Regions from separate parts of the Homo sapiens genome. Here all the other regions are linked to region 1. Evidence: fine-mapped expression QTL. A gene starts in region 1. Each other region holds a variant in brackets. All regions are shown on one strand. Distances are from middle to middle.

Region 1 (8,109 bases):
TTCGGATACAAGTTAAACAACTTGTATTTTGGGGGAACATCCTGGAGACTGAAAGGGGGAGGGGCAATTTAATATTTTACACAAAATTTCACTTCCATAAGATACTCCTTCATTAGTTTTGGAAATCCTGAATTGTGCGAATTGCTGTCAAGTAAGTTTCTGAAGAGATCTCTATTACTTTTCTTGCCTTATTCCTTCAGAAAGAAAGAAAGGTTTGTCATTTTTCTTTGCAGGGGGTACCTTAATGATGGGGGAATGCTTTAATTACTTTAATGGTAGAAGGGGAGAACAAGGTGATGCTGGCAGATATTAATCCCTTTTATATGAAGTGGCATTTAAATGTTCATTATACTGTAACTACTTTGAAATAAGCATATGGTATTTGCTTCTTGGTATATTCAACTAACATTGAAAATTTAAAAGCCAAAGTTACTTTTCAGAGCTCAAGATTAGACAGTTTGATTCTTGTAGTTTCTGGCTAGTTTACTAAATAAAAGTCGGTATATATTATGTGTATCTTTTATGTTCAACTTTGCTTTCTAGCAGATTCATCTTTCTGTGCTTTACATAAAAGATCAAATTAGTTTAATAAAAAATTAATATCACTACTCATCTATTTGCAGGTGCCAGTTACTCTTTCTGCGGTAGTGTGGCATACTGTGTGGCTTTAAGTTCAGCAACATTTCATATAGGAATTGTTCACAACTATTATGTTTAACTTTAAAACAAGCAATCAAACAAAATTCCTGGGGGGGGGGGGAATCTGAAGAAACAAGTTTTCGTCATTATGTTAGGCTTCCAACTTTCCTAAAATTTCTGTGCCTTCTCCCACACCATACACAGATCTGCAAAGCATCAGGGTGCACCAGTGGTTAAGACTGCATATTTGATCAAATCTTTAAAGTCTGTCACATCTGATTATGTAATGCTGTTCCCTAAATCTGTAGCATCCTACCCTAGTTCAGGAAGACAATCTGGTACACTGAAAAATGTATCTTTCAGCTTCAATCACAGGTTCTAAAGTTAGAGAAATCTGTGTTAGAAACCCAGCTTTCCTGTTTTCTAGCATTGTATCCCTCGGTGAGTTCTTTAACCATTCAGGGTCTTAGTTTTCATATTTCTTTAATGGAGGAAAAAAAAAGCAACTGTCTTGTAGATTTGTTGGGAGAATTAAGAAAAAAATATACATAAAACACTGAACATAGTGACTGGCACACAGGATGGCAAATAAATAATAGTTATTTTTGTTGTATTGTTGTTTAGGGGTATTTCTGAAATACAACTAAGCTAGAGAATGTGAAACTCAAACTTACAAGTCCTTATTTTGGAGGTCACTGAAAAAAAATTTTTTTACATTGAAAAAATTCCTTTGAGTCTAACATCTTCAATAACAATAATTTATTGATGCTTTTGGTATTAGAAGGCACCTTAATGTTCAAGATACCTCAGAGAAGAAATTAGATTATCTCCTACCCTCAACAAACTTATATTTTAGGGAAAGTTAAACATTAAACAGCCAATCACGGTTATTTAATCACAATTGCGATTAGTGTTATAAAGAAAGCCTGCTAAAGGAAGAAATGACCTAACAAGATCAGAATTAAAATTTCTAAATCCCACCTCCCTCCAAGGGTTTTCAATCACTCCCTCTATAATTAAGACTTGATCTGCTTTTCTTAAAATGACAGAGTAAGTAACTAATCTTACCCTGATCATTTTTATCAGAACTGTATACTGAAATTACAGGAATTGTGTAAAACCAATAATTCACTTCAAATATTTCATATAGTGACTTCCTAATGAAAGACAAAACAAAGATCTAATACAGGTAAGCACTTGTCAACTATTCACCATGAACTCATGTTAGAAAACACATTTCTTGATTATAAAACCAATGTGCTTATTTCCTAAGCATGCTATTATTTATAATAATGACTCCTTTTGCAGAATGTTTTTGTTAAAATGAGTATTTGTTACAGAAACAAATTATTTCTGTGATTTTTAAGATAAGAACAGTTCTAATTTGCTTACTAAAGGAGAATTCTTCACCTTTTATAATCTGTTACCTTAAAAATTAAGAACAAAAATCTGGTGACATCCATTTTAATGATGACTTCAAGATTCCTACCTTCAGATGTTAGTACATTGTTGCAGAATAGTGCCATTAAAGTCCCAAGTAAACATAAAGAGAAAAACCGAGAGATTAGATCAACTCTCCCACCAAGATGAAATTAAGTTTATTCTATAAGACAGAACCTACGTCGATGTTTGTCTTAGATTCAAACAACATTAACCTAGAAATTAATGCAACGACAATTAACCCAGAACAGTCATTGTCAATTCTCCAAAAGCGGCCTCTTCACCTATATTTAAGTTCATAAGGCAAACCAGTCAAGAATTCCTGCTGCCAATTGAAATGAATGGAAGAAATATATTTAAATCAAATAGCACCATCTAGCAGAACCCTGATCTGCTCACGAGAGTAGATATTACTTGGTGTTCAGTTTGGTAGATTTGACAGCAAAGTGGCAATTATTTGTTTTCCTGGTGGGAAATCACAGAATTAGAGCTAGAAAGGACCACAGTTATGCAAGTTCCAACATCCTTGTTATTATCTGAGAAACTAAAAAAAAAAATCAAGCAGTCCTCAGGATACTGAGTGGGATTCAACTAAAGTTCACCCCTTCCTGGAAGTTCACCTAAAATCTAAAATTACTTTGATTCTCAAATTCAGTCACCCCCAAAATAAGATCATGCCTCAATACATTTCAATCACTCTGACTAATGTGAAATTCAAATATTCTGTGATCATTAAAACATCCTCCTTCAGATGTTTTTATCAGGCACATTATAACAAAATGATTAATGCACACAAATGAGACTGCATTTCAAAACTTCAATTCTAGTAACTGCCGTTTCTTAACCAGGCTATAACGCTATGTCTTTTATATACTACTTGTCACAGCAACAAGATCCTGAATGCAGCTCAGAAAATATCTCTTGCAAAAAAACAAAAAAGCCTCTCTAATTTTTGTTTTGTTTTGTTTTGCTTTGCTACATCAAGGCCTGATACCTCTAAATCCTATGGGAATTGAGTGTGTTGCTGCCAACACAAAGATTAGGAAATGTTCCCATCCCTAGGGCACACAAAACTTTCAGGGGGAGACTAACTGCCTAAACCAAGGAGGGAAACTCAGTCGCCTGCGCATTCGGTTTTTATTTACGCAGCTATTTCTGTGCGCAAGGTAACCAAAGTACCTTTGAGAGATGCTCTCAGACTTTTTCTCTGGTCTGAACCCCCTCAGAAAGACAGGGTGCGTTCAACGACAAGGATAACTCTGACCCTCAGAGTTTAAGTGGTTACTGGGAATCACTGATCTGTTGCACAGTTTAAAAAAAAAAGGGGGGGGTTCTTCCTCAGTGATCACAGTCACTATTCGTTCTCATTTTTAGTAACAACCAAATCACCGTTACAAGTACACAAGAATAGCAGCAAACCGCTTTGCTTTGCAGTGTGCCGTGACAGTGGCATCCCGGGCCGGGAGGGGCTCTGTTCTCGCCAGCCGCCTCTTGGGCTCCCACCGAAGTTAACACCTGTATCTCCCCACAACTGTAACCAAGCGGCTCCTTCCCACCTGAACGCTTCTCCCCTCCCACAAACCCCTTTTCGGACCACTGGCCCTCCCCGCCACAGCTGCCCTCCTCGGGCGCCCCCGGCGGCTCCCACAACTCCCCTCCGCGCGCCCCCGACCACCGCCCCGCCGGGCCCGCCCCTCCCGCCGCTCGGGGGCTGCCAGCCTCACAAAAAGTTCGCCAGCCGCCGCCGCGGAGTTGGGTCCGCTGCGAGAGGCAGAAACGCCAGCCTCCTCCAGCGGATCCCGCTCCTCGCCAACACACTTTAGCTCCCCGGGAACTCGGTCCCTCTCCGACTCCCAAACTTCGGCGGCGTCTCCGGCGCCCACCCGCCCCCGCCCCCGCCCCAGCCCCAGCCCCAGCCCCGCGATGCGCGGGGGACTGCGGGCGCCGCGTCCGTAGCTGGCCCAGGAAAGCCCGGACGCCCAACCCGCACACGCCCTCCGCGCCCCGCGCGCGTCTCCGCGCCCCGCGGGGCCCCGCTCGGCCGCTCCACGCCCGGCTTCCGCCCGCCGCGCGCCCGGCACCGCCGCCCTCGCCTCGCCTCGCCCCGCGCTCGCGGCCCTAAGCCCCAGCGCCCAGGCCCCCGCCGCCGCGCTCCCCGCGCTGCCCGCCCCGACCCCGGCCCCGACCCCGGCCGGCCCGCCAAACACCCACATTCCCACTGCGCGCCTTCCTCCACGCAGCTGCCCCTCCCGCCACCCCCGGCGGCTCCCCAGGTCCCCGGAGCCCCGGACCCCAGCTCTAAAGTTACTTTGGAAGGTGAACCCGCGGGTTATTTCCCTCAATCACCCAAACAAGTTTCCATCCTCGCCACCAGCACCACCGCCGCCCCTCAACACACCCGGTCCCTCCCGCCGACAGCCCCCTGCGGCCGCCCGCCCAGCGCCCGCACCTCCCGGGAAAGCGCAGCTCCCCGCACCACACGCCCCCATCGCGGCACCCCTCCCCCTGCCAGCCCACCCCCGGCGCTCCCCGGGCGGAGAGTGTCTGTGTCTCCCAGAGTGTGCGAGTGCGTGCGTGAGTGTGCGCGCGTGTGAAGGCGGAGGTGGGTGAGAAGCGGAGACACTTACTTCTCCCGGGCCTGGCTGTCGGACGGGACGGCGCTGCTGTTACTCTTGCCTTTGCCGTACATGCTTGTGCCGAGAGCAGCTCCCACTGTCACGCACCTGTCAACCCATCACAGCCTCCCCGGGAACAGCCCCGTCCCCATGGCGACCCACGCAGCCACCCCCACTATTGGCCGCCCCACGCCAAAGCTCCGCCCCCTTCGCCCAGGCAACGCGCGAGACTGACAGGCCTCCCCCTCCCTCTGGCCTTCCGAAGCGCGCGGTGGCGGCTAAGCCTCAGCGGCAGTCTCCTCCCTCCTTCCCTCCCTCCCCGACTCCCTCCCTCCCGCCTTCCCTCTCCGCTCTCCTCCCTCCACCCGCTCTCCTTCCCCCTCCCCCCTCCGAACCCGGGCGCAAGGGGGGAATTAGAAACTGCTCTAGAAGGATTTTAAACAACTGGCTGTTCTCTCCGCCGCCACCCCTCCCCCCGCGCCGCCCGCGCTCAGCTCCTCACTGGAGAGAAGGCGCCGGGAGGAGGAGAAACTGCGGCCTGGAGTCTCCGGCCGGAGCCGGCGGAGCTGGAGCCGTGGCGGCCCCAGACTTCGGGGCGCCCGCCGAGTCCACGACAGAGCCACGGCCTCAGCCGCCCTGGGGCCCCCACCAGCCCCTCTCCCGCTCCTCTCCTATGCGTGACCCCGCGCCGGTACCCACGATTGATTTTTGCGGTCCTCAGCCCTACTCCCTGGGGTGTCGCCCCCGCCCTGTTCCCAGAGGGCCGGCTGGCGAGGGACACCCGCGCGGTTCCCTCGACCTTCTGGCTGAGCGACCGACAGCGACTCGCCTTCTCTCCTGGGGAAAGGCTGCACCTCCGGCCCTCGGCGCCGCTGCGGTGGCGGCGCCCGGGGCCGCGCCCTGCGCCCCAGGGGAGCACCCGGCCTGGGGTCGGCCTCCTCTGTAAGAGGTGAGCGGACCTCCCGAGGAGGCCCGGTGACTCCTGCGGCCGCAGCGGCCCCTGCCCCAACCCCTTCTTGCACGGAGCCCCGCGGCGCCCTGGACACCCCGCCAGATCTGCCGCAGAAGAGGGCCCCAGGCTTCCCCACCCGGCCTGGTTTAACAGTTTGGGTCAGTGATGCCTATTCATCCTGACCCCTGGAGTGGAAAAGGCCAGAAAAGGTCTTGAAAGACTTCCCTGTCCTTGCCCGTTAGAATAGGCCCCAGCGCGCTCCAAGGTGTACAAAGCTGTGCCAGGGCTGAAAGGCTGCCCGAGAATGTTTCTGTATCCAAATCCCTAATCCCATTTCAGTAAACGCGCAAAAGTTTCAGAAACACACACAATCTGGTTCCCAGTAGAACTCTGCATCATTTATCTTATTGAAGTCCTTGACTGTAAAATCAGACGGGTGCAAATGGGGTTAGAAAGAAGATGGGCTTCACACGGGGAAGAAGGGGACAGATGGGGTGGGACAGGGCGACATCTGGAAAGGATGAATAGACAAGAAGTAGCTATGGGAGGAGAGGGAAATCGGATTCGCGTGGAGGAAGGTACCGTTCTATTCCACACACACACAGCTTTAAGCATTTAGTAGGAGGATCATAAAATGCATATGGAGATATACAGATAGATGGAAAGGAAAGAAATGGGTGTGAGCATTGACAGAAGTGATAGGAATAAAACATCAACAGATGATTAAGGAAGGGCAGTTAGCAAAAGTGAGAGGTCGAGAATCAAAAACGCGGTTGGCAACCAGACATAAAGACGGGAAAATGAAGAGGAAGGACTTTCTATACTGGTGTTAATGACAAGGAAAAAAACATGAGGAAAGTGAGGTATAAAAAGATGAGAAGACTAGAAGATACAGGATTAAATGAAGAAGCCATAGAGTGTGATAGCAAAAGATTAAAAGTAATAGAGGACAGACATTATCGTTAAAAAAAAGATATAAGAAAAAAAGCACTTTTATTAAAAGGACAAAAATTAAGCCAATAAAGGAAATGAGGGGGGAAAAGTGGGGGAAAAAAATACACTGGCTTAAGTAGATTAATTTCCAAGAGATGTAATTTGCCATTTCTGACTTAAGAATTCTTCTGTCAGTTTCTAATGACCTACAGTTATTGGGTGGTTAGGATATGGCATTCATATTCTTCTTTTTGTTTCTAATGACCTGCAATGATTGGGTGATTGAAGCGAAGCTGAGCCAGTCAGCCTCTCTTAATGAACTTTTGCTCAAAATGCTCAAATGTGTATAAGGTTGCCACAGTTTACAGACTCAACTTCAAGGTTAGCATTATGTAATTTTTTTGTTCAATTATCTACTTCCATTGGCCTTAACCCAGAAAATTTTTAGTATATCAAGGCTCCATCTCTTATAGAATACTCCCTATAAAGGTGCTGCTCAGAGAATGCTGTCAGTTCTCAGAGAGCTCTGGCAGCTTCTCAGACACCCTCCTGCCTGCCCCTGGAAAAACGAACCAAGGGTGGGCTTTGTCCTACTATCCAAAAACAAAGTAGGTATTATCCTTGCACTGGTGTTGGGACTCTCTTAACTATGGTTCTCAATCATGGCACGTTAGAATTGCCTTTATTTTCATTGTTGTTGGGTTTTGTTTGTTTGTTTATATACTAACTGGATCAGAAACCTTGGGGATGGACCCAGGTACCTGCATTTTTTTCATAAGCTCCACGTGGTTCTTGTGTATAACCAGGGCTGCCTGCCTTTGCTCTTCAGTATCCATTTAAAGACAGCCAATGGGTACCATAAGAGATTAGTACAAGACTTTTAGGTTGGGCTGTCCATTAACAAATGACCCTACTCAAAGCATTAAGATGTCTTTACAGTGTACTTTACTTTCTGCCACCAAGCCAACAAACTTGTTAATAGGACAAAAATGTATGCCCATATGTGTTCTCATAGTACAAGATCATGAATAGCCATGGTTTAATTTGCTATTTCCTATAGAGAAAGGAAAATGAAGAAAGAGAACAGGAGAAACTGTTTGCTGTCTACTGCTATAATTTATTCATTTGATTGGTTTTTACCCAGATTTGTTACATTTGGAAGTCCTATGGGTAATGGCATATTTTCTGATGTTTAAAAAATAAATAAATTATAGATCTGCACAGTGGGGTATGGAATTTAGAACAATTTGGTCTTAGTCTTTGGAAAGAATAAAATGCTAAAAGGTCTTAGTTCAGAACTTGCGAAGTTAATGTCAGAGTTACCTTTATAAGAATGTTCTCATCTGACAAATATACAAAGTGAAAACATGACTTTTATATGTATATGTATCCTGTATATAGTAACCTTAAAGCTTAAGTAATCAAATCAATTATCATTAAAACAGCTCAGCAGCTACCTGAACCATCTCTGTTTTATTTTCCTCTAAATGTTTTCACATGTAAATAAAATGCTTCTTTGCCCTTGTTCAA
Region 2 (8,109 bases), 30 kb after region 1:
GATTTGTTGTTTGTTTTTGTTTCTCAAGAAATGTTTCTTGGTCATTTTGAAATTCCTTCCCTGGAATGCAACTGATATATTAATTTGTCATGTATGCCATGTAAATGTTCTATTAGGCATAGGGTATTTGATGGAAATAACTGAGTGCATATTCATTGTTTTAGTGATGAGGTAACAGCTTAAAATAGACACCTACATTCAAGAACAGCTTCTACCCTATGAACTCCTTGAAGTAGGGATCTTATTTTCCCCCTCGTTGAGCTCTAACCTGCATACTTATGAGGTATCTGGCACACTGTGGGCGCTTATTAATCTAGGACCTTTTCATTGAGAACCTGCTAGGTCCCAGGCACTGAATTGAGTTTTCTGTGCATATGCCAGCGCACACCTCTTTATGGGTGTGTGTTTGCAGTCTTGGCCACGCCCTTTCTGCCATCTACAGAGAATTCTGGCTTTTGCTCTGCAGCTTCTCCTCTTCCCTGCTCTCTGAGGAGAATCAGACTTTTTCCAGGTTCCTAGGCATTTCTGATGCAGAATTAAGAGACCTGGAGCCAGAGGGACAGAACTAATGAGGTGGGTGGAAGAGGAAGGAAAAGAAAGATTAGCCCTAGGAGAGCAGGACTTCGGGGAGAAGGATGAGAGAAAGGCGTGGCCATTCATGTTTCTCCCAATCAATTTGTCGTAGATTACAAACAGGGTATCTTTTATTGTGCTCTGAGAAACCCAGGTAAAGAATGTGATTTACTTCTGTTTCTAGCCTCTGTCTCTTCTCCAAGATAGGACCAAGTAGGTCCCAGTTTACATATATATTATTTCTAATATTTAGAACACCCTGACAGTGTAGGCATTATTGTTTTTAATTTCCAAGTGAGGAAAGAGCCTTAAAGCAGGCCAGTCATTTTCTCAGGGCTCCTCAGCTAAAGCTACGATTTGAATCCAGTTCTGGTGAGCCCAAAGCCTGCTGTCCTTCTGCAATGCCACACTATGTCCCCATAACCATCTGTTGAATTGAGCTGAATCAAAATGCTTCCCTTGTGAGGGGCCTCTATTTATTCTGGTATCATACACAAATGGGAAAGGCTTATTTCTGATATTTGATTCAGAAGAGAAAAGCTTAACTACTATCCTGGAAAGCAGGCCTGCCTTCTGTACTAAGCTTGCCTGTGGGCTTGATGGTTCATTTTGAAGTCCAATCACTCTGCACCTAGGAAATGGCAATGTTTACCACAAAAGGTTCAGCAAAAACTGTTGCTAAAATTGCTCTGTGGCCATTCATGTTTCTTAAAATCAATTTTTTTGACCAGGTAGCTGCCTGATGCACAGAAGTGAGAAGGAAAAGGTTTCTTCAAACTGCCAACTAAGTTACCCCAGACCTTTCAATGGCCGAATAGTAAACAAAAATAAATGCACTTGTTTTGGTGAATTATCATCTTAAATGGCTTGAAGGAATGTTCTCATGGTCTATTGCCATAGAAACCATGATAAAATTTCTTATAAATACTTCAGAAACAGGACTACCTACCCCCATGGAAAATGGATAGTGTGTACAATGGACCTCCAAGGAAATAAGTGGCTGTGTGACAGAAAATAATGTAACCCATTAAAAGAAATCTCTTGATGATCCAAGTCATAATGGATGAACTGTGTATATGAACAGAAAAGGGGAAAAAAAAAAGAATCTGACAGTCGTATGAGGTGGTTTTGGACTGGTGTTCAGACACCATTTTCCAAAGTTGCATAAACTTTCTTTCTTACTGAGGAAACATTCTGTAGGCATTAACAGTGAAGTGATTGCATCTATATTCAGAGAGTACATGCACAGAGCCATTATGGACCAGAAAGGAATTGTATAAAAATGATTTGACAAAAAAAAAATAGTCAGTCTGCTATGCCAAAATCCAGAGGACTCTACCTCAAGGTGAATCTTATTCAATTCCAAAATGTCAAGTAGATCTAGTCATTTTAATATTTTTATTAGATTAAAACTTGATACCTTTATAAAAGCTAAAGAAACTGACCGGAATATAGGCTCCAGCACTGATAAATTGTGTGATCTTGGGCAAGTTGCTTGGCTTCTCTAAGCCTCAGTTTCCTGATCCGTAAACTGAAGGTGGTGCTTATATTTATGGCAGGATTAAGTAAAATAACCCAGGCAAAGCACTCCACACTGTTTTCAGCACTCAGTAAGCACTCAACAGTAAGTGTTAGAAAGTACTTATCAGAAGTAATAATAAATATAATAACTGATAATAAGTTTGCACAACTCATCAACATATAGTGCTAATTTTTTCATTCTCTTTTCCCCTTGAACTCATAGACAATATCTGATCTTAAATAATTGAAAAGAATGTGCTCAGAGAGGAAGCAAACACAGATCTGAAAGTCACAGTCCACGCAGTTTCTACATTGCTCTGACCTTTCTGATATTGGTGGATCCGGAACATTCAAAGTGCCATGGGCATCCTTCTTGCAGTATTTCCTCCTGATGTTTGAAAAGAAAGTCTGTTTTCATAAGACCTTGGGCCTGATTTCCAGTGGGAAAAGGGCTGAAAAAAATTTGGCTTCATTTCCAAGTATCTTTGCATATTTCCCCAATTGCACAGAACCTCCAAGCTTCCCCAGATTACCTCGTTTCAATGACATCGAATCTTTCAAAGGGAATGTAATAATTCCACAGAGGACTTAGCATTTCTGACAGCTTACCTCCCACTGTCCTCAGAGCTTCATAAATTATGCTGCCTCTGAATGTGAGCTGGGCAGCACCATTTTCCTGGCCCCTTACGTGATTCATGGTTTCTCTTAACTATGTCAGTGCCTTGTCAGCAAAGCTGTTCCTTTTGGACACAGTATGATGTGATCTGCTTCTTGGAGGACAGCTTGCTAATTATGTACTGATTTTATATACTGATGATTTTGTTTTACAATTTCAAGGTAACTAATAACTATTAACTTTAGAAATTACTTCCAAATTCAGAAAACATTACCATTTAATTAACAATCTGCTCTCTGCAATACACTGTGACCTGAGAAACCACTCTAATGGTAATACACTGTTATCATTAAAATTAACCAACAAACCAAAAGAATGGGTGCTGTTAAGGTCAGATATGGAAAGACCATAATTAAAAGAAAGTGAAACTAAAAACAAGTATCAGACCAAAAGATCA[A/G]CACAGCACAGACAGCCGCCGTGCCAGCTTCCCTGTTTTGCACTGCCAAAACAGCTCCCTCCTGACCTGCAGCTCCGCAGAATTCCAAACCTAGGCCCTTCTGGAGCTCAGGGCTGAGACAATTTGTTGCATGGTTTAGTAATGGAGGCTCAAAGCAAAGTGGATAAAACATTCCTGAAAATGACATGCCTCTAAAGTTCCCTCTGAGGTATCTATGATCTTTACATATGAGAATGAGCTATACATTTTTATGAATAAGTTTTATCTTTCCCCAGCCTTCAGAACTTCCCACAAGTCTTCCAAGCTACACAGGCTCTTCCTGACTTAGGAAGCTTCCACTCAGGGACGTTTGGTGGACGTTGTTCATGTGGGGCCTTCCCAGCATTGTCCTTGCCCCTGTGTCCTCAGGGAGGGTCTTGTCATTGCCAGATGCTTCTTTAGAGCTAGAGAATGCAGAATTGAGAGAAAGAGAAGAGAAGAAGGAAAAAGGCACATGGGATATGTCTAGGAAAAAAGGTTTTCAAGATTTAGAGAAGAGAGTTCTTGAAAAGCTATAGGAAGTCAAGAGGGGTAGAAAAGGAGGCTGTGGACTGTGTGCTGACAGCATGGTGTTTGAGAAAGGCAAATAAAGAACTCAATCAATTATTCTGAAATTACCTTTTAGGTACAGGCTATGTTTCTTGGTCAACATGACTACCTTGAGGTTAGACCTCTTGAATTTCAGCCTCAGGAGAATTTCTTTGGGAAAGATTACTACAGAAAAAAAGTTGGCACTACTCGGTTCTACTGCCAGAGTCCACCCGACTTCTGAGGCTTAGACACAGGAACCCTAGAGTCAGTATCGTACAAGGCTCCCTGCCCAACTCCCAGCTCCTGCTGTTGCTCAAGCTCCTCCACCAGTTCCATCCTGGGTCTCTCTCCTTAGAGGATTTTAAGAGGCCCAAGGCTTACAGAGAATAAAGGCATAGGGATTGTGCTACCTTAGAAGGATTTAAAAATTGGCCCAGGACAGGCCGGGTATGGTGCCTCATGCCTGTAATCCCAGCACTTTGGGAGGCTGAGTGGGGAGAATCACCTGAGGTCAGGAGTTTGAGACCAGCCTGGCCAACTTGGTGAAACCTCATCTCTACTAAAAATACAAAATTAGCTGAGCGTGGTGGCGAATGCCTGTAATCCCAGCTACACTGGAGACTGAGGCAGGAGAATCACTTGAACCTGGGAGGCGGAAGTTGCAGTGAGCTGAGATCGTGCCACTGCCCTCCAGCCTGGGCAACAAGAACAAGACTCCATCTCAAAAAAAATAAAAATAAATAAATAAATAAAAATTGGCCAGGGACAGAAGGCTAAAAGCCATTATGGGTTAAGTAGGGGTTTTTTGTTTTTTTTTGTTTGTTTGTGCTTGGCCTGAATTGATAATCTACCATTTTAAACATTGTTTCTGTTGGAAAAAAATGTGTTCTGATTTCCCCAAAATGGGTATATACAGGGATTTTTAAATCAATGCCCAAAGTAGGTCTAGGATAGTCACTCAATGCTTCTTAGGTTATGTTGATGTTGATTTGGCTTAATTTTTATTTTCAAAGGACAGATTCATCATTTATATTTTTAAAATATGTATATGTAGGTATGAATATAAATAAGAGTATTGGATATACACCAAGATGTTAATAATAATCTTTAGGCTGTAATATTATAATTGATACTTTCTTTTCTATATCTTTATATTTTCCAGAATAAGAAAACAATGAGGATTTTTCATTTTTAAGAAAGCAAATAACATTGAGAAACAAAATTTACAATAGCTTCAAAAAACATTTTAAATACGTAGAAGTAACTTAATAAATGAAGTGCATAACTTCTGTGCTGAAAAAGGATACAATATTGCAGAGAGAAATGAAAAAAGATTTAAATAAACAGAGAGATATCATGTTCATGGATTGAAACACTCAATGGTGTCATAACGTCAGTTCTTTCCAAAGTGATCTATAGATTCAATGTGATCTCAGGCAAAATCCCAAGAGGCTTTATTGTAGAAATTCATAAGCTGATTCTAAAATATGCAGTCATGTGTCACTTAATGATGGGGATATGTTCTGAGAAATGTGTCATTAGGCAATTTCATCATTGTGTGAACATCACAGAGTTTATTTACACAAACCTAATATAGCACATTTTACACCTAGGCTATGTGGTATAGCGTATTGTTCCTAGGCTACTACCCTGTACAGCTTGTTACTGTACTGAATACTGCAGGCAACTGCAACACAATGGTAAGTATTTGTATATCTAAACTTGTCTAAACTTAGAAAGAGTACAGTAAAAATAAGGTATAAGAGATAAAAAATAGTATACCTATATAGGGCACTTACCACGAATGGAGGTTGTAATGGAAGATGTTCTGAGTGAGTCAGTGAGTGAGTGGCAAGTGAATGTGAAGGCCTAGGACATCACAGTACACTATGGTAGACTTTTTTTTTTTTTTTTTTTTGAGATGGAGTTTCGCTCTGTCACCCAGGCTGGAGTGAGGTGGCGCGATCTCGGCTCACTGCAACCTTTGCCTCCTGGGTTCAAGTAATTCTCCTGCCTCAGCCTCCCGAGTAGCTGGGATTACAGGCGCATGCCACCACACCTGGCTAATTTTTGTATTTTTAGTAGAGACGGGGTTTCACCATGTTGGCCAGGCTGGTCCCGAACTCTTGACCTCAGATGATCCACCTGCCCGGGCCTCCCAAAGTGCTGGGATTACAGGCCATGAGCCACCGCACCCGGCCCACTACGGTAGACTTTTTAAACACTGCACACATAGGCTATGCTAATGTATTAAAATATTTTTCTTTCCTCAGTTATAAATTAACCTCAGTTTACTGTGACTTTTTAACTTTATGAACATTATAAGGTTTTAACTTTTTGACTATTTTATAATAACACTTAGCTTAAAACACAAACATATTATACAGCTGTACAAAAATATTTTCTTTCTGGCCAGGCACAGTGGCTTATACCTGTAATCTCAGCACTTTGGGAGGCCAAGGTGGGTGGATCACTTGAGGCCAGGAGTTCGAGTCCAGGAGTTTGAGACCAGCCTGACCAATATGGCGAAGCCACATCTCTACTAAAAAGAAAATACAAAATATAGCTGGATGTGGTGGCACACACCTGTGTTCCTAGCTACTCAGGAGGCTGAGGCCTGAGAACTGCTTAAGCCTGGGAGGCAGAGGTTGCAGCAGTGAACTGAGATCATGCCACTGCACTCCAGCCTGGGCGACAGAGCATGACTGTGTCTACAAAAAAATGTCTTTCTTTGTAAACTTATTCTACAAGCCTTTTTTATTTGTAAAATTTTCTTTTTTTTTTTACTTTTGAAACTTTTTTGTTGAAAACGAAGACAAAAACACACACATTAGCCGATGCCTACACAGGATCAGGATCATCAATATCACTGTCTTCCTCCTCCACATCTTGTCCCACTGGAAGGTCTTCAGGGGCAATAACAGTCATGGAGCTGTCATCTCCTATGATAACATTGCCTTCTTCTGGAATACTCCCTGAAGGACCTGCCTGGAGCTGTTTTACACTTAACTTTTTTTTTTTTTAATAAGTAGAAGGATTATGCTTCAAAATAGTAAAAAGTGTGGTACAGTAAATGCATAAAACAGCAATGTAGTGGTTTATTGTCACTACCAAGTATTATGTACTGTACATAATTATACATGCTAGACCTTTATATGACTGGCAGCACAGATGGTTTGTTTACACCAGCATCACCACAGACACTTGAGTAATGTATTGTATTGCATCGGCTATGATGTCACTAGGCCATAGGCATCTTTCTGCTTCCTCTAGTATAATCTTATGGGACCACCTTCTTATATGTAGTCATTGACCAAAACGTTTATCTACGGCACATGATTGTACAGAAAAAAAAAATATGTTGATGTTTCCTAACTTTCCATTCCTCCCAGGTTATGACTCCTGCTACTTTTGACTGGGCCCTGCCTTCTTACTCTGGTTCAGTAACAGGGCTCCCATTTGGAAACTGGTACGAAGGCCCCAGTTGCCTACCCAGAAACAGCCTCAGGTGTTGCATGGGCAAACCTTACCCTTTGCCTCATGTGGGTGAGCCTATTTGAGAACATCTTAATAAAACGTTTCCTGATCACTATGGACAAAGGGATTTTTATTGTTGGGGTGGCCCAATATTTTCATGCCCCCGGATTCCCCCATTATTGTTTCCCTTTCTCTGATTCCTTGTCCACCATCTGCTCCTCTCTCATGGCTGTGTGTTTCTTCTTTAACGGTTGGGGATCAGGTTAGCAGCTGCAGGAGAACTTGATTAGTGCCTTGCCTCTGTGCAGAAGCATTTCCCTGACAGCATTGATCCTGGTTTCGCTTTGCAGGCAGCTCCACAGAGAGGCTTGTGCTGCAATGGAGGTGGACTGTTGTCTGGTCAATGTGAGTTTGGGGCAGTCTACTAATTCATTCCTCTTTGCTCAGCTGTTAATTTTGCTTAAATAAGAGCTGCCTGCAAGTTTTCATTTAAAATCCACTGCCTGACTGAGACCTTGTGATGGCAAGATTCAAAGACAATTTTTATTGCTAAGTTATTAGTCCTTTGAAAGAAGGAAAATTTGATGTTTAATATTTAAACAGTTTCTATTTTGCAAAATTCTTTGATATCTGAATGTTAACTGTGTAACCATTTAAGGTCCATTTCCACAGACTTTTCCAGACATTTCAAGCATACAGGAATTTATTTGTAATGTTCCTGCATGAAAAATTGCCATCTCTTTTCTGCCATGGTGGCCACTGCCAACAGATATGTCCATTACGAATGAAATAAAGAGGCACTTTATATTTTGATGCATTTCAATTTGTCCATTACACCAGACTGTTCTTTTCTTGAGGAAAGGAACAAATTCCTTTCATCTTTAAAATGTTACCA
Region 3 (8,109 bases), 350 kb before region 1:
AAGCGATTCTCCTGCCTCAGCCTCCTGAGTAGCTGGGATTACAGGCACATGCCACCATGCCATTCTAATTTTTGTATTTTTAGTAGAGACGGGGTTTCATCATGTTGGTCAGGCTGGTCTCGAACTCCTGACATTGTGATCCACCCGCCTCGGCCTCCCAAAGTGCTGGGATTACAGGCGTGAGCCACCACACCCAGCCAATAACCTGTTTTTAACAATTTTTCCATGTGCTTCTGCTGCACAGTATGTTAAAAACTACTGCCGTATGGTGTCTTTCTTTAAAAGAGTAAAGCTTACAGTGCAGTCCTTCCCAAGAACATCTTCAGTTTAACAGGGGGCCTTTTCAGACCTGTAAAGGAATTTGTGATGCGGGGAAAAGGGTCACAGTCTTGGGTCTGGAGAGATGTGTTTGTGTCTGAGTTAGACCCTATCCTTGCTAGTGTTGAACTCGAATGTATCACTCAATTTACACATTAGTTTGTTTTTTTTTTTTTTTAACAAAATAGGGATGCTTTCCCTATTTCATAAAGTTGTGATTAGATCATAGAAAGTATTATCAAATGGAATCATGATAACTGCTATTTATGGAGGGTCAAGTCTCACAACAACCTTGCAAGTAATATTCTCTTTAAAGAGCTGGGAAATCAAGCCCAGATAATTCATAAGCACTTACAACATGCCACACATCCCTATGAAGTATACAAACTACTACAATTCCCATTTTATAGATGAGGAAACTGATGGAACTTGCCCAAGACCACATAACTAGGAAGTAGTAGAGTCAGGATTCAAATCTAGAAAGTCTGGCTCTTGTTCAGCTGGGCTAGGAAGTTGATGCATGTGGTGCAGAGGACACATGGGAAGTGGGAGAGATGGGAGTGGTGCCCAGTTCTAGCTCCAAAGGCCATGCTGGTGCCTCTATTTCAAGTCACCTTCATTCATTCAATCAGCACATACTTATTGAGTGCCTACTTTGTCGCAAGGACTGTTCTGGTCATTGGATAAATGCTGGTGAGTAAAATAGATTGGTCCTTAGAACTTTATAGAATTCATAGTTTAAAGATAACATGGAAATGGCTACAAAATAATGTTGACTATTCTAATGAGGATGAAATGGAATGATAAGCACATAGGGAAACTGGCTGATGGCTGTGTGCAGCTCCTGAAATTATAACCTGCTGTTGACCGTCTACTAGACTTAAGATCAGTGCTGAGTTGGGTCTGTTTTTTAAAACAATCACCAACTTACAGAAAATTTGGAAGTCCTGTACAAAGAACATATTTTTCTCTGATCCATTTGAAAGTAAGTTGCCAACCTGATGCTTAGCCCCAAGTACTTTAGTGTGAATTTCCTATAAACAGGACTTTCTCCTACTGAACCATAACACACCATCAAAATGAGGAAGTTGACATGAATCCTCAGAGCCTGCTATGGTTTGAATGTATGTGTCCCTCCAAAATTCATCTGTTGAAACCTAAGACCCAATGTGACAGTTTTAAGATGTGGGACCTTTTGGGAAGTGATAAGTCCCGATGGCTCTGCCCACATGAATGTATTAGTGAGTGCCCTTGTAACAGGGCTGGAGAGTACTATCTACGTAGGCCCTCTTTGCCTTTTTTTTTTTTTTTTCCTTTCTCTCGAGGTCACCATGTGAGGACTCAGTGTTGTGGAGCCACTAGAAGCTGAAAGGGGCAGGGAAGGAAATCTCCCCTAGAGCTTTTGGGGATTACGGCCCTGCCAACACCTTGAGTTCTGACATCTGGGCTCTGGAACTGTGGGAGAATCAATTTGTCTTCAGCCCCGCAGTTTGTGGCAATTTGTTACAGCAGCTGTAGGAAATGAACACACCAGCCACCTAGAAAACCACCAGTTCAGATGGGTGGGTCAGATTCCAACTCCACCTGAAGGGATAATTCTAGTTTTCTCCCTCCTCATATTTTCAACTCCGTTTTCTGACAAGAAACCTGGCTTCTGTGATGCTTAATAGATTGACTTCTTTGGTCAGTCCCCCATATGACAGCGACCTCCCTGCTCCTCTGCCACCCTTGGCCCTGAGGGGGCTCCCTCCCGACCTCCCCACTGGACTCAGGGCAGTGTCCTGCTCTGGGCACACACCCATATCCTCTGTCTCACCTAATGGCTAGACACACATTACTCGGAGGGGAAGGGAAGGAGAAGGGTAGAGGAAGACCAGCCCTGGTTTATGCCCACCCTTGCTGGAGCATCTCGACTCTCGGTGCACTGCCCTGCTCCCCTGGGAGGTGCTGGGTGCCCACCGTGCCAGGCTGGAATGCGGGTGCCCCTGCAGGAGGCTGAGCCTGTATGTGATCACACAGTGCAGGGGTCAGGCTTCGATGTAAGAGTGGCAGGAGTGCGTGTCACCGTCTTACCCTCCCCTCCTCAGAGCGTCCCGACGCACCTGCAAAACCCAGTGTATCTTTCTACACATGTGGTGTCATTGGCCAGGCCAGGGCTTGGCTCCTGGGAGTGGTGCTGCAGGCAAACTGGGGAGAATTGAGATCCTTTATTTCAGTTAGGATAAGGCATGCATTTAAATGTCAGAGGCATTTCCTGGTGGCATAATGGATATTTATCCCCTATTAGATAGGGAGCAATCTGCACTGAAGAAGCCTTCAGATTAAATTTCAGGGATGAACCAAGATTCATCCTGACAGGTATATAGATCCTCAAAGAATAAGTCCTCATAAAATAGCCTAAAAATGTTCCTTATGGCAGTTCGATACTTTGTAAAGAGCCCTTATTATTTGTGCTTGATAATGTATGACTTAAATTTAAGAACTGTTTAATACAAGCATGTCCTTTCTCCCTAAAGTGATTCATTCATTCATTCATTCACACAGATTTTTCTAAATATCTAATATTGACCAGACACTGGGCTAAGCATAAGCTAAGTACTCTGTTTTTAGAGAGCTCAGTAGGGTGGGGAACACAGATTGCTAAGTCAGTAGTACAATGTTTATCGATATGGGCACATCAAAAGATATGATACTTAGTGCCCTGGGGACACAAGGTGGGAGGTTCTCCTTTGCACGGGCTTTCCTGCAAAGGCTCTGTTGCTCTATCAATCAAACAGCAGGACATAGGCAACCTAAGCAAAGGGAAATGCTTGTAGGACTTCCAGGATTGATTAGATATGGACAGCAGGTTTGACAGTGGGGAGGAGCAAAGGCTATGCTGCAGGGCTGCCCCTGTTCCTTCCATCCCGTGGAACTCTGTCAAGATCCAAAGTCCAGAAGACAGCATCTACCTGACCAAGCTTAAGTCATATGTCTGCTCATAAACTTAGGGATGGGGAAGGGAAGGGAAGGGCAAAGGGAGAGGTGAAATCTGTTTCTTTCCCTTTCAGTAGAGATGAAACTGGTGCCTGGAATAATTACCTTCTTACTAAGATTAAACACACTAGGGAGTTATTCTCTAAAAGGAAAACAAACTCAGATTAGGAATGAAGAATGGAAGCTGGACAAATCTTTACAATGACCAATGACTCTTACCTGGACATTCAGGCATGGGGAAGAATATGGGTAAAGGCAAGTCCTTAGTAATACTGCTGAACTGCTGGATCAAGCCTTACCTGAAACCAACTGACCTTGGAGCTTTCCAGTTATGTGAACAAGTAAGTGTCCCCTATGCCCTCCCATTTTTTGCTCTAAGCCCATTTGAATTTGGTTATCTGTCAGTGTAACCAAAATATTTCTAACTGATAGACCCCCAGAATGTTTTTTAATAAGATTCTAGGCAGTCTTTTTTCCCTAAGAAATTATTGATTTTTACTCATTTTTCAGTCTCTGAGTGACATTTGTGCTGCACGTTTATAGCTCATATCAGATGACTGATCCAGCTGATAATATCACATTTTCAAGTCATTTATCTCAGATAGGTAGTGTACAAACAAAATGATGTTTGTGCCATGTAGGCTAATTTTTAAAATTGTTTTTGTAGAGACAAGATCTCACTGTGTTGCCCAGGCTGGTCTTGAACTCCTGGGCTGAAGCAATCCTTCTACCTTGGCCTCCTAAAGTGTTAGGATTGCTTGTGTAGGCCACCATGCCCTGCCACATTCTTGTTTTCATAATTAATCTGAAATTTGTTTTATCCTTAAGAGTTGTTTTTAGGTAATTTTAACTGTAGAAATTCAGCATGGTTTATCAAAATATTTTTTGTAAAATGGAACTTTATTCTACAATGTATCGAAAATTGCAAGACACAAGTACCATTGAAACAGGTAAAGGTTTATTATATAGAATGGTGAAACATAAAGAAAATAATTTTATTCTTTTTAAGGAGCCTTCATTAAGAAAACCCAATTTAAAGATATTTCTGTTTCCAAATAATTTATGTATATTTGTTGCAGCATAATTCTCCAAACATACCTAATGTAAAATACAAAACTATTTGAAACCGAATTCAAATATAAAATATATATGTGTGTGTATATATATACATACATATGTATGTACATATATGTATATGTACACATATATACATATATATGTATATGAGCTATAAATGACTGTGCTAAAGATGCAGAAACCTGAAGACTCATCAGTGCGTCCTCAAATCAGGCAGGTTGGTCAGCCACCAACAAGCCTCACCTTT[T/TC]CAAGTCCTTGCCCACCAATTAAGGGAAAATGTCTATAATGAACCATAGACTAACAAAGATTTTATAAAATGACTTTCAAAGGATTTTTTCCCGAAATGCCCTATGTGATCTGGCAACTGCCTCCTTGTCCTCTTTTTTCTCTACCTCCAAAATAAATCAGGTTCTGTGACGTTTGATGCTAAACCATAATTCGGCTTTGGGCATTTTAATTAAGATATTTTTGTGAAATTCACTTATCTGTGGCATCTTTTTTCTTCTTTTTCTAAATTCATATTCTAAACATTTCAGGAACTAAAACTTCAATACTACATCAACCGTATTATTATGGTAGCTTTCTTCCTTTAAGTGGACATTTAAAGTTCTCTTCAAAGCAATGAAAAAGAATGGCAAATAATCTCCACAAGAATGAGTTATATGAATATGTTTTGAGATTTTGATACCTCTGTTCTTGAAATATCTACTAGCAACTCATTAGGTCAGAGTCTTAGAGCTTAGACATAGTGAAGCTCAGAATGCAATAAAGGGGACAAAAGTCCTGTAGACTAGGCATTAAAAAACCTTTTTAACCTTTAAGACAGAGTCTTGCTCTGTTGCCCAGGCTGGAGTGCAGTGGCATGATCCTGGCTCACTGCAACTTCCACCTCCTGGGTTCAAGCAATTCTCCTGCCTCAGCCTCTCATAAAAAACATTCTTGTTAGCCAGTTATGTGAACGGGATAAATCCACTGGGCATATGATACATTTTTTCACATTACTGCTGTCATCATTCCTTAGTTGCTTTTTTCTTTAGGATCCTGGAGTTGTCTGAAAAGATTGACATTATTCGACTATTTCTCTGGCATTTCAATGAGAATAGACTATTAACAAAGGAAAGTGAACTCAAAAATAGTAAATTAGACCCCTTAACTTGCTCGTATCAGCAGAAAAATAGATTAACAATTTTTTTTCAGATTCTTTCCCTACACTGATAGTTTTCCAGCTACTTATAAGATCTCATCTTGATATCAACAGTGTTAGATATTAACAAAATACAATAGCATTAAGAAGACGTATTTCATCATTCTACTTTATTGAGAACCTAAATAACCAGTTGAGAGTTATGTAGGGAAAGCAAGATTAGAACCCACGTTTTCTGTCTGCTGATACTGTGCTTTGTCATTCTGTGACACTACACTGCTTCTAATAAAAGGCCTTCTATTTCTTAATTTTTAAGAGTAAAAATATATCTTAAGCAAAAACAATATGTTGAAAACAAATCTCTGTGGGTTTTTTTTTCTTTTTCTAGAAGTTACACATATTTCTTAGTAGGAATACATTTCCATCTTTCTGTTTGGAGTGAGTCACATTTTAATGTTTTGTTTCAGAATTTGCATCTGAAGGGTTAATAAAGATACAGTATGGCATAAAGGCTAAACATAGCTCTTAATGCTGCTGGCGATCATCCCCTGGAATATACTAGTGCTGAGATTTATGGAGCCCCTTAGGCTCCCACAGACCCTCAGCTTCAGGGAAAGGAAGGCTCACTCCAGAGAACAATGTGCATATATTCATTCTGCTGCCCTGCGGCACAGCCCAGCCTGCTAACCTGGTCACCTTCTGCCTCACTCTTCAGTCTTAGCTTTTGCGTTGATGTACACGTAAATCACTTGGGACACAGAGTGAAATCACAGTATTTAATCAGCATACTCACTGGTCAATTTTACTTGCCTCCTTGCAAAGAAGCAAGTCTTATTTCAGAGCTCTAAGCTGTTAATTATTGTAAGCAATCCATCAAATACATAGGTTTCTGAAATATGTTGGACTATGATTTAATTATTTTCCTCAATTATTATTTTCTGCTATTTCAATTTTTGAAAGCCATACAATTAATCAGTTATAATTGGGTATGGGCGCCTCTCCACCAATCCATGACCCCCAGCGCCTGCATCAGATGTTGAAATAACACGATAAATGTGTTTGGATGAAAAAATACTGTGGTGACATGTTTGGATGAATCAAGTTCACATAAATGGTACAATAGATGGGATGAGCATGCAAGCTAACATAGCTTTATATTGCTTATGTTTACAGATTTGTGCAAGTCTTAGAAGCCTAGATACACTTACTATGCACCATATTTAAGAATTGTTGATTGAAGAGGTGGACAATAAAACAATCAAGCCATATTTCCTGCATGCAAAGGACCAGTAATTAAGGATGAAGGGGCATGCTCTCTTCCTCCCCTGCTTTCCCCTATTGTTACCAAACATTAAATATTCAAAAGCATTTGACTAAAAATGTCACTACACATTTATAATATTCCATTAAAGCTGATATAAAAAATATTAATAGACATTTGTTATGGTATTATAGCATAAAAAGGCTGTAGCGGCCGGGCGCGGTGGCTCACGCCTGTAATCCCAGCACTTTGGGAGGCCGAGGCGGGTGGATCATGAGGTCAGGAGATCGAGACCATCCTGGCTAACAAGGTGAAACCCTGTCTCTACTAAAAATACAAAAAATTAGCCGGGCGCGGTGGCGGGCGCCTGTAGTCCCAGCTACTCGGGAGGCTGAGGCAGGAGAATGGCGTGAACCCAGGAAGCGGAGCTTGCAGTGAGCCGAGATTGCGCCACTGCAGTCCGCAGTCCGGCCTGGGCGACAGAGCGAGACTCCGTCTCAAAAAAAAAAAAAAAAAAAAAAAAAAAAAAAAAAAAAAAAAAAAAAGGCTGTAGCATAAAAAAGGTGAGCAAACTCAAGATCTACCATGATCAAATGTCTACCTAATATGACATGCCTAACATTTATCAGTAGAAGTCAGTTATCATGTTTAATAAAAATAATCAGCTTGTTTTTGAACTATCATTTTCTATCAGTCATTGAACACTTTCTTGTTTCTTCCTTTAAAAACTGCTAAAACTCAGATAGACAAGTAAAATTATTTATTTATTTATTTATTTATTTATTTATTTATTTATTTATTTTTGAGACGGAGTCTCGCACTGTCGCCGGGGCTGGAGTGCAGTGGCACGATCACGGCTCACTGCAACCTCTGCCTTCCAGGTTCAAGCGATTCTCCTGCCTCAGCCTCCCCAGTAGCTGGGATTACAGGCGCCCACCACCACGCCCAGCTAATTTTTTGTATTTTTAGTAGAGACGGGGTTTCACTATGTTGGCCAGGCTGGTCTCGAACGCCTGACCTCGTGACCCACCCACCTCGGCCCCCCAAAGTGCTGGGATTACAAGCGTGAGCCACCGCGCCTGGCTGACAAGTAAAAAAATTTTAAAGAAAAGCTGAGAACACAAAGTATACAATTCCTAATAATATGTTGATAAAGAATTACAAGTTGAAAATAAAATTTGCAATAGCTAAAAGTTTCATGGGTCTCTATAGAAACCAACAGCGGCAAGGGGATTGCTGCAGGGGAGGCGTGGTGGTGGTTCATTCTTTCATTCTAACGAACTGCTACTGTGTGCTATATAGACTTGAGGAACCACCTGCTGCCTATTCAGTG
Region 4 (8,109 bases), 39 kb after region 1:
CAACTGAGGAACAGGCCCACTTTGCAGCACATAGGTTTACTAAGTAGGTTTGAAAATGTACTTCAAACAATATGAGATGTTTTCCTCCAAAGGAATTATCTCCCTCTGAGTCCCCCTATATAACGTTTCAGAAGCCACAGAAAGCAGCACACTATAGTTGGAAACACCGTACACTTTAGAGTTAGACCCAAATTAAAGTTCTGGCTCTTCTAAATATGAACTCTGGACTTGGACAAGTTATTTAACCTCTCTTTCAGTTTTCTCATCTATACATGAAGAGTAACAATATTTCCTTTCCAGTTTGTTGTAAGGAATAAATGAGTTAATTTATGAAAAAAGCTTGGCACATATTAGGTACTCAACAAATGTTAATCTTCTCCTTCCTCTGACTCACTATGTGAGTCCTATTACTTTACAGCCCATCACTGAATTTCACTCCAAATCAATAAGCATGATTTGGAAGAAAACAGAAATCTCTTTTTGACTTCTTGACCGAGTCAGCCAGAAAGTCTCCTACTACACAGGCTTTAAATAGCTGTCTTGGTCCATTCGGGCTGCTATAAGAAAATATCATAGACTGGGTGGCTTATAAACAAGAGAAATTTATTTCTCACAGCTCTGGAGGCTGAGAAGTCCAAGATCAAGGCGCTGGCAGATTTGCTGCCTGGTACGGGCCTGCTTCCTCTTAGATGGCGCCTTCTCTCTGTGTCCTCACATGGTGGAAGGGGAGAATAAGCTTTTTGGGGCTTCTTTTATAAGGGCACTAATCCCACACATAAGAGCTCTGATCTTTCGACTTAATCACCCTACAAAGACTCTACCTCCTAATACAATCACCTTGGGGGTTAGGATTTCAACACGTGAATTTTGTGGAGATGCGAACATTCAGACCATAGCAGATTAGAATTGAAAAGAGCACCACAAAGGCCTGCTTCCATTCAGATATGCATATTTTGGTCAACAGATCACTTTCTCAGTGAAGTAACATCCGATGCTAATACACGTCCAAGCCCGTGTGTGCTTGTATCTACATGTACTAATAGCACACAGCCAACAGAGTGGCTTTTTTCACCAAATAGATTCAAGATTGACTTGTTAAGCATATCTGCTCATTTGCATGAAGAAAGCTAGAATGCTTCACATACTGGGCACACTACTTCAATCTTCAGCTATAAAATCCATTAGGCTCCATAAGTTATTATTTTGCTTAAAAGAGGAATATTCTTGACAAGGAAATCCTAGGAGAAATGCACTGCATGATGCCACAGGAAATGATTTCTGGAGGACTGCAATGAGTCCAGCCAAATCACTTCAGACATCTCCACAGCCTGTCAGTCCACGTAACACTACAGGAAAACACATGCGTTCATTAAAATGTCTGATTTCGTACATGCTAGATATAGCAAAGAATCTGCTGGAAGCTGGACTTCGGTAGATATGACTAGTTTGCACCTTAAGGATTTAGATTGCATATTCTCAACTGAGGAGCACGAAAAGAAAAGAAGGCAAGGGGATCATGCTCTACTAGCTACACACAAGCAGAATTAGTCCTGAAGCAACCTGAGGAAAACATACAAGAATCATGAAACCCTAAAGGGGAAGATCCAGACTCTCTCCACCCATCCATGTCTAGTCCTGGTACCAGCCCAAATTACCTTGCAGCAGACACAAAATACAGAGAAATATTTATATCCTAAAAGAAGAGTTTTATTAAAAAAGAGTCAAAATACTAACTATACCCTAATACATTATATTCTTATGTTAATGTTCTTTTGTGGTTATGAAAAACCATAGCTCCATAAAGAATAGGAACAATGCACTTCCATTTATATTATTATTCTTACACTGTGCACATTACATGCTAATTCAACATTTGTAAGAGAGATATCAACAGTGACAAATCAAGTTTCATCAGGTTAAATTGAGGATTTTGATAGTACCAAAATTAATAAGTCATAATCCACCAATCCATAGTTTTATACCAGCCTCTGTCTATTTAAGGTCAATTTGGAAAAGTTTTCAAGCAACTACTCTAAACCTAACCCCCTTTTTCATTTTGTTATTTGGTTAGTGTTTAACTAAATAAGTTTATAATATAAGCATTAAGACTATCTAAAAAAGCATCCCCCCAGCACCCCCCCAAGAAAACCCACACTAATTTAGGTTAAAAACAAAGTAATGGCAGCAAAAGTGTCTTTAAGTTTTGCAATAATCCTTCCAGTACTTTTGCATCCCAAAAGGCTCCAGATGTGACCAGCCACTGCAAAATGGTAAGTTGTTTATCAGCATTCTACAATGGGAACTGGCACCTGTAATTTTACTCTTATTTTGCATCAGCATTATTAAAACACGTAAAAAAAATGACCAAGTGAGGGTTTTGTGTAATCACACGTACACCTTCAGGGTGAAATGCTCTGTTGGCTGTCTGTTGTCCTGAAGGTGACGGCTATACCAAGCAGCTTCCTTCTCTGTTGTCTGTGTGTAGCTGCTATGAGCCTCCTTCTATAGGGAGTTTCTGCTGGTAGCAGTGACTGGAAAATAATGTGGAAATGTTGTTCTCACAGCCTGTAAAGAACCGACTGTTGATCACTTTTGATAATGCAAAGGATTACAGTGCTTTTCTTTTTCATTCATTTTTTTCTTGTTTTCATTTTTCTTTCTTTCTCCCTGTTGGTTGCTAATAGTCATCTGTAATTAGAAAGAGGCCCCTTGTCCGCCTCAGTCTGGAGTGAAGGTTTAAGAAATAAACATATTTGAATCATGTGATGACAATTAACCACTTTGTTAAGCCATAGATCCCACTTCACCCTTACCACCTCCTCTTAACCCGGAGCTATGTTCCATCCTGCCTAAGGTTTTCCTCACTGCTTCAGCCTGCTCCCAACTTTCCAGTTGTTTAGAAACATGACAAACTGACTTTTGTTTGTTGGCACTTCAACAATGTAGATTATTGGAACTTCACTTTTGCTTGACTGCTGATTTCCAATCCTATATAGCAACAAAGTGTAATTTGTTACTGATATAAAATCAATGGGAGCTAGAAGTTTGCTGTTTTAAAAAGTTTCTTTTCTTTGTTCCTGTCAAACAATTACACACTCAGATGCTTGAAAACAGGTTTTTGTTTGTTTGTTTTGTTTTGTTTTTTGAGATGGAGTCTCGCTCT[G/A]TCGCCCAGGCTGGAGTGCAGTGGTGCAATCTCGGCTCACTGGAACCTCCACCTCCTGGGTTCAAACGATTCTCCTGCCTCAGCTTCCTGAGTAGCTGGGATTATAGACGCCCACCACCACACCCTGCTAATTTTTTGTATTTTTAGTAGAGACAGGGTTTCACCGTGTTAGCCAGGATGGTCTCGATCTCCTGACCTTGTAATCCGCCCGCATTGGCCTCCCCAAGTGCTGGGATTACAGGCGTGGGCCACCACACCCAGCTGAAAACAGGTCATTTTTTAAAAGACTCTTTCTGCAAGTCCTTTGCATACATGTGAAGAGAGATGAGTTGGGAAACTGAGGAGCAGAGGGTTTAAGTGACTCACCTAGGACAGCAGAGTGAGTCATCACCAAGCTGAAGTGGGGACTCGGTGTTCCTGACAGCTGATGGTCAGCACAATACACTTGATTATATGGCCTTGGGAGTTAGAGCTCCACAAAACTCTCATTTCTGGTTTAAACTGGGCTTTGACTAGTTTTGTTTCTGCTTCTTATTAATGGCAGTTAAACATGTATTGATACAGTCAAATAACCACAAGGCCAGGGATGCTCTACTTAAGGCCATCCAGGAACTTCCAATTGCTGTTTGCTGTGCACAGGCATACTGAAGCTTAGCGTGCTGAGTATCCAGCAAAACCTAGCACGATCTTTATTTCCCTAAGTTAGTTTTAAAATTGTCTTGGCTGGGTGCAGTGGCTGACGCCTGTAATCCCAGCACTTTGGGAGGCCGAGGCGGGCGGATCATCTGGTCAGGAGTTTGAGACCAGCCTGGCCAACATGGCGAAACCCCGTCTCTACTACAAATACAAAAATTAGCTGGGTGTGGTGGCACGTGCCTATAATTCCAGCTACTCGGGAGGCTGAAGCAGGAGAATCGTTTGAATACAGGAGGTGGAGGCTGCAGTGAGCTGAGATTACGCCACTGCGCTCCAGCCTGGGTGACAGGGCAAGACCCCATCAAAAAAAAAAAAAAAAAAAAAAGAAAAGAAAAGAAAAAAAGGCCGGGCGCAGTGGCTCATGCCTGTAATCCCAGCACTTTGGGAGGCCAAGGCGGGCGGATTACGAGGTCAAGAGATTGAGACCATCCTGGCCAACACGGTGAAACCCCGCCTCTACTAAAAATACAAAAATTAGCTGGGCATGGTGGCATGTGCCTGTAATCCCCGCTACTTGGGAGGCTGAGGCAGGAGAATCACTTGAACCAGGGAGGCGGAGGTTGCAGTGAGCTGAGATCGGGCCACTGCACTCTAGCCTGGGGACAGAGCAAGACTCCGTCTCAAAAAAAAAGATGGATTAAAGAGGGTTGAGAAAAGAGGCAGAGACTAATAGACTCGGGTTAAAAGCTGGCAAAGAGTGGGAGTGTTTGAAGATGTATGAAATGCATTCCAGGCTGGGTGACAGGGCAAGACTCTGTTTCAAAAAAAAAGATTGTCTTTAGTGTCAGCATGGTCAAAATGTTTACATCCATCCAAACAGCTTATTTCAAAACAAATACACCCAGCAGTCGGCCAATCAAGGCTTAATATTAGGAGAGTCTTATTAATATGAAATGTGCAAGGCTGTGAAACGTGTAGGTGAATGAGAAGATAAAAAGATGTAGAGTGGTCACATCCCTACTCGAATGAAAGTGAGACCTCATGCACGACTGACCAGATGAGAGTGACCACGGTGTCCCAGTGACAGCTGTGTCAGGATCCATTAATGTTTCATAACTCACGGGGCCCATTATTAAGCATGCCTCTCCTCAACAGCGTTTGGGGGTTTGACCCGAGTCCTCTGCATGTCACTTCATTTTAAAAGGCTATTTTTCAAATCTGGAGCCATCATCGAAGGTCTCAAAAGATAAGTTATTTAATGGATAACAGAGTATTTTTTAGTAATATTAGTTATTTTAAAGAAATAAGGTGAGACTCCTAAAAGCTGGAGCCAAAGGATCCTTCTGACTTGAGTGTGAAGGAAAAGACCCTCTCTTCTCCACCATAAGCTCTCAGTGTAGGAGAGTCCCTTGGGCGAAGGCAGAATCTGGAGAGAATCAAGATCTCCCCCTGAACTTACCAGAAGCCCTTGGAGAAGCCCTGGAACCACCTGTCTCTAATTAATCTCTCCTGTATTCCCTTAGCACTTACACCTCATAATTATATTTATGATTGTAATTGTATTATATTACAGTTCAGATCTCCTTATGATAAATACCATCATAATGAAAACTTCACTATTATCAAAAGATTCCCCAGCCTTAGCCAATAAACTACTTATTTCGGAAATCCAATAAAATAAGGTTCTATTGAAATACAATAATTTGGATGTTCCTTCAATTATGTTGTAAAGGAATTTGACCTTGCGGCTATATTCTTTGTCATGTGAGAGTGCACGGGCCCTTCCTCTGGATCATAAGATCCTTAACAAAATAGTCCCTAAGACAGTTTCTTACGTAGTAGATGCTTAATAAACACTAGAACAAGTGAATGATTTGCAATAGATGTGTAATGGAAACTGGATCCCCCAGTATAGAGCAAAGGCATCACTAAAATTATTGAACTGCAATTAGCATGGCCTTCATTCTTCATTACCATTTTTATCAGTATTTGAATGAATTAAGTGTGAAACTGTAGCCCTGATGTGAAATCTTTTAGACTTTTTGTTCATCCCTGATGCTTCCTTCAAAAAACAACCAGTTTTATATCAGCCAGTAACAGAAGACCTATTTGTGCCTACATGACTCTGTCAACACTGGCATTAACTGGCTGGTAGTTTTCTGGCCTGTGATATTTATTTCCCTACAGCTCTGATTATAACATTGATACAAATTCTTCAGTCCTAGTGGAAGACAATTTTACATGGACACTATTGGTCCATTGTATTATAGTATTATCTATATATACAAACCATAGCACATATTTGTCTACTCTTTTGGAAACCGACATTTTTGAAAAATAGTGTCATAGTGGCTACACTGAAAGTAAAATATTTTAAATCAAAAGTTTAAATATGATAAGCAAACACTAATTTATTCTTACTAAATGTGAGCAGGATCTTTGAATCAAGGATGCAATATGACTATTAAAACTCCTACCTCTACCTGATGAGAAAAGATCATATTAGAAGATGATGAGGCCGGGCGCAGTGGCTCACGCCTGTAATCCCAACTACTCGGGAGGCTGAGGCAGGAGAATGGCGTGAACCCGGGAGGCGGAGCTTGCAGTGAGCGGAGATCGCGTCACTGCACTCCAGCCTGGGTGACAGAGCAAGACTCCGTCTCAAAAAAAAAAAAAAAAAAAAAAAAAAAAGAAGATGATGGAGTAGGGAACTTAATTTATTACCCTCTGGAAGGAGGTTTTTCTGGGCATATGCTGTACATGCTTATCAAGAGAAGTATACAACAAGCAAATGGTAGAGCTGGAATTCAAAGCCAGAGCTGCCCTTTACCATTGTGCTACCCTCCTTCCACTCCAGGAACGCCCTTTTCACAACTGAAAACAATTAACGTTGGAAGATATACTCAATCCCACTTAGCCAATAATGCTCCACAGATTGACAAGAAAAGAAAGCAATGCAATAGGGCAGAGTTGTACAAATCTAGGAAAAATAAGTAATTTAGGGCCATATCCTATATCCTTCAATAAAGATGATAATGTGCTGATGGAAAGGAAGGCTATGGAGGTTAATGTTAATATTAAATTATTGAATCACTGGTGATTATGAGGTTATTAAACAAGTTATCCTTTCTGTACTAGTCTCCTACTTGTATGTCTGGTCAAGTACCCAAAGCTGAAATCCTATATCTAGCCCAAAGGAAGGAGCTAAAAGCCCCAAGATCTCTAAGAAAAAGAACTGCAGCAGCCGTGCAATGAAATATAAACTTTGGAGACAAATTTAGTTTTCAATCTCCGCTGTGGTGCTTAGTAACTGCATGACTTTAGGCAAGTTATATAACCTTTCTAGGCCTCTGCTTCTTTGTTAGTAAAATGGGGATGATGGTTACTGGCATGTGGTTCATAGGACTATTTTGAGTAGTAAATGACAAAATGCAAAGATCACACTTGTGTATACTACTAATTGCTCAATATTATTTGTTATTTTAAGTAGTTATTTGTTGACAAACAAAAATTTGACATTCATTTCCGTCAAAATTTTCTTCATACATGACATGCCCAAATCCCTTTAACTAGATTCATTTTTTTTTTTAATTACAATGCTCTCATTAGAAGAGAGAATCTATTTTCTCTGGAAAAAGAGCCACATTAATGATCATGCAAACTTCATTCTTCAACTTTTTTTTGTAAAATTTTTGTAGACCATACAGGAAATAACACCAAACTTCGTTTATGGTGCTTAGCATTATTATTGCAGTTTGATGATTTTCCTAGAAATTGAAAATTTTATAATAATTTATTCAAGAAAGTTTTTATCTGAGCTCTAAAATTCCTTCAGATTCATAGACCTGACAAGAAAGAAAGTCATCAGGAGTGTCAGATAAATAATAAATGGGACTGCAGTTTTAGAAGGTGCTTGAGTAATACTGTCTTCAAAGTTCTCAAGAATGAGAGGATTTGCATTGGAATCAAACCAACACATTTAGAAGGTGGGGTATTTGCAGTGCTGAGGTGCCCCCCCTCACGACCCAGGTCACCCGCTCTAGAACGCCTTCCTGGGCCCTCGACAGCCATGAGGAGGCACCTGGCCCCTCAGGGACTTTTGCAGTACTTTGCGCACAATTCACACATAGCAGTTATTACACATATGCCTTATTTTGTTTTGTTTGGGTTTGGTTTGGTTTATATTGCATCCATTGAGATTTTTTCTTAAAAAAATGAAATCTAAATATGCTGCTGGCCTGCTCAAAATCTCTCTCCCTGATTTTAGGAGAAAAAAAGTCCTGAACACTTCCACGTGGTGTTTGTTACAA

Alleles and levels. Alleles are on the strand shown, and positions count from the first base shown. SD is a standard deviation of normalised expression in the study named. Not every link is listed here.
As copies of T replace TC in region 3, the expression in cerebellar hemisphere of the gene that starts at base 4,823 in region 1 goes up (small effect, 0.30 SD a copy in GTEx).

What was found. PIP is the estimated chance that this variant, and not a neighbour inherited with it, causes the effect. A credible set is the group of variants that fine-mapping cannot tell apart.
Region 2: its variant is the best candidate, but not a certain one, in a credible set for the expression of SSBP2 in whole blood (TOPMed, PIP 0.71).
Region 3: its variant is the best candidate, but not a certain one, in a credible set for the expression of SSBP2 in cerebellar hemisphere (GTEx, PIP 0.75).
Region 4: its variant is the best candidate, but not a certain one, in a credible set for the expression of SSBP2 in whole blood (INTERVAL, PIP 0.61).

The regions. Positions count from the first base shown.
Region 1 is chr5:81,746,275-81,754,383 of GRCh38, forward strand. SSBP2 (single stranded DNA binding protein 2) reads right to left here and starts at 4,823. Exons shown (of 17, transcript NM_001256732.3): 1 at 4,707-4,823. The coding sequence starts at 4,768. RefSeq lists silencers at 3,685-3,844, 4,065-4,114, 4,555-4,604, 4,775-5,104, 5,375-5,724.
Region 2 is chr5:81,776,055-81,784,163 of GRCh38, forward strand. LOC107986384 (a long non-coding RNA gene) reads right to left here and starts at 2,756. Exons shown (of 3, transcript XR_001742518.1): 1 at 2,704-2,756; 2 at 2,417-2,546. The variant A/G (reference allele first, on the strand shown) is at 3,168.
Region 3 is chr5:81,399,156-81,407,264 of GRCh38, forward strand. No RefSeq gene overlaps it. Among named protein-coding and RNA genes, the nearest start is that of ACOT12, 9.1 kb to the left of the region's middle. The variant T/TC (reference allele first, on the strand shown) is at 4,619.
Region 4 is chr5:81,785,698-81,793,806 of GRCh38, forward strand. No RefSeq gene overlaps it. Among named protein-coding and RNA genes, the nearest start is that of SSBP2, 39 kb to the left of the region's middle. The variant G/A (reference allele first, on the strand shown) is at 3,164.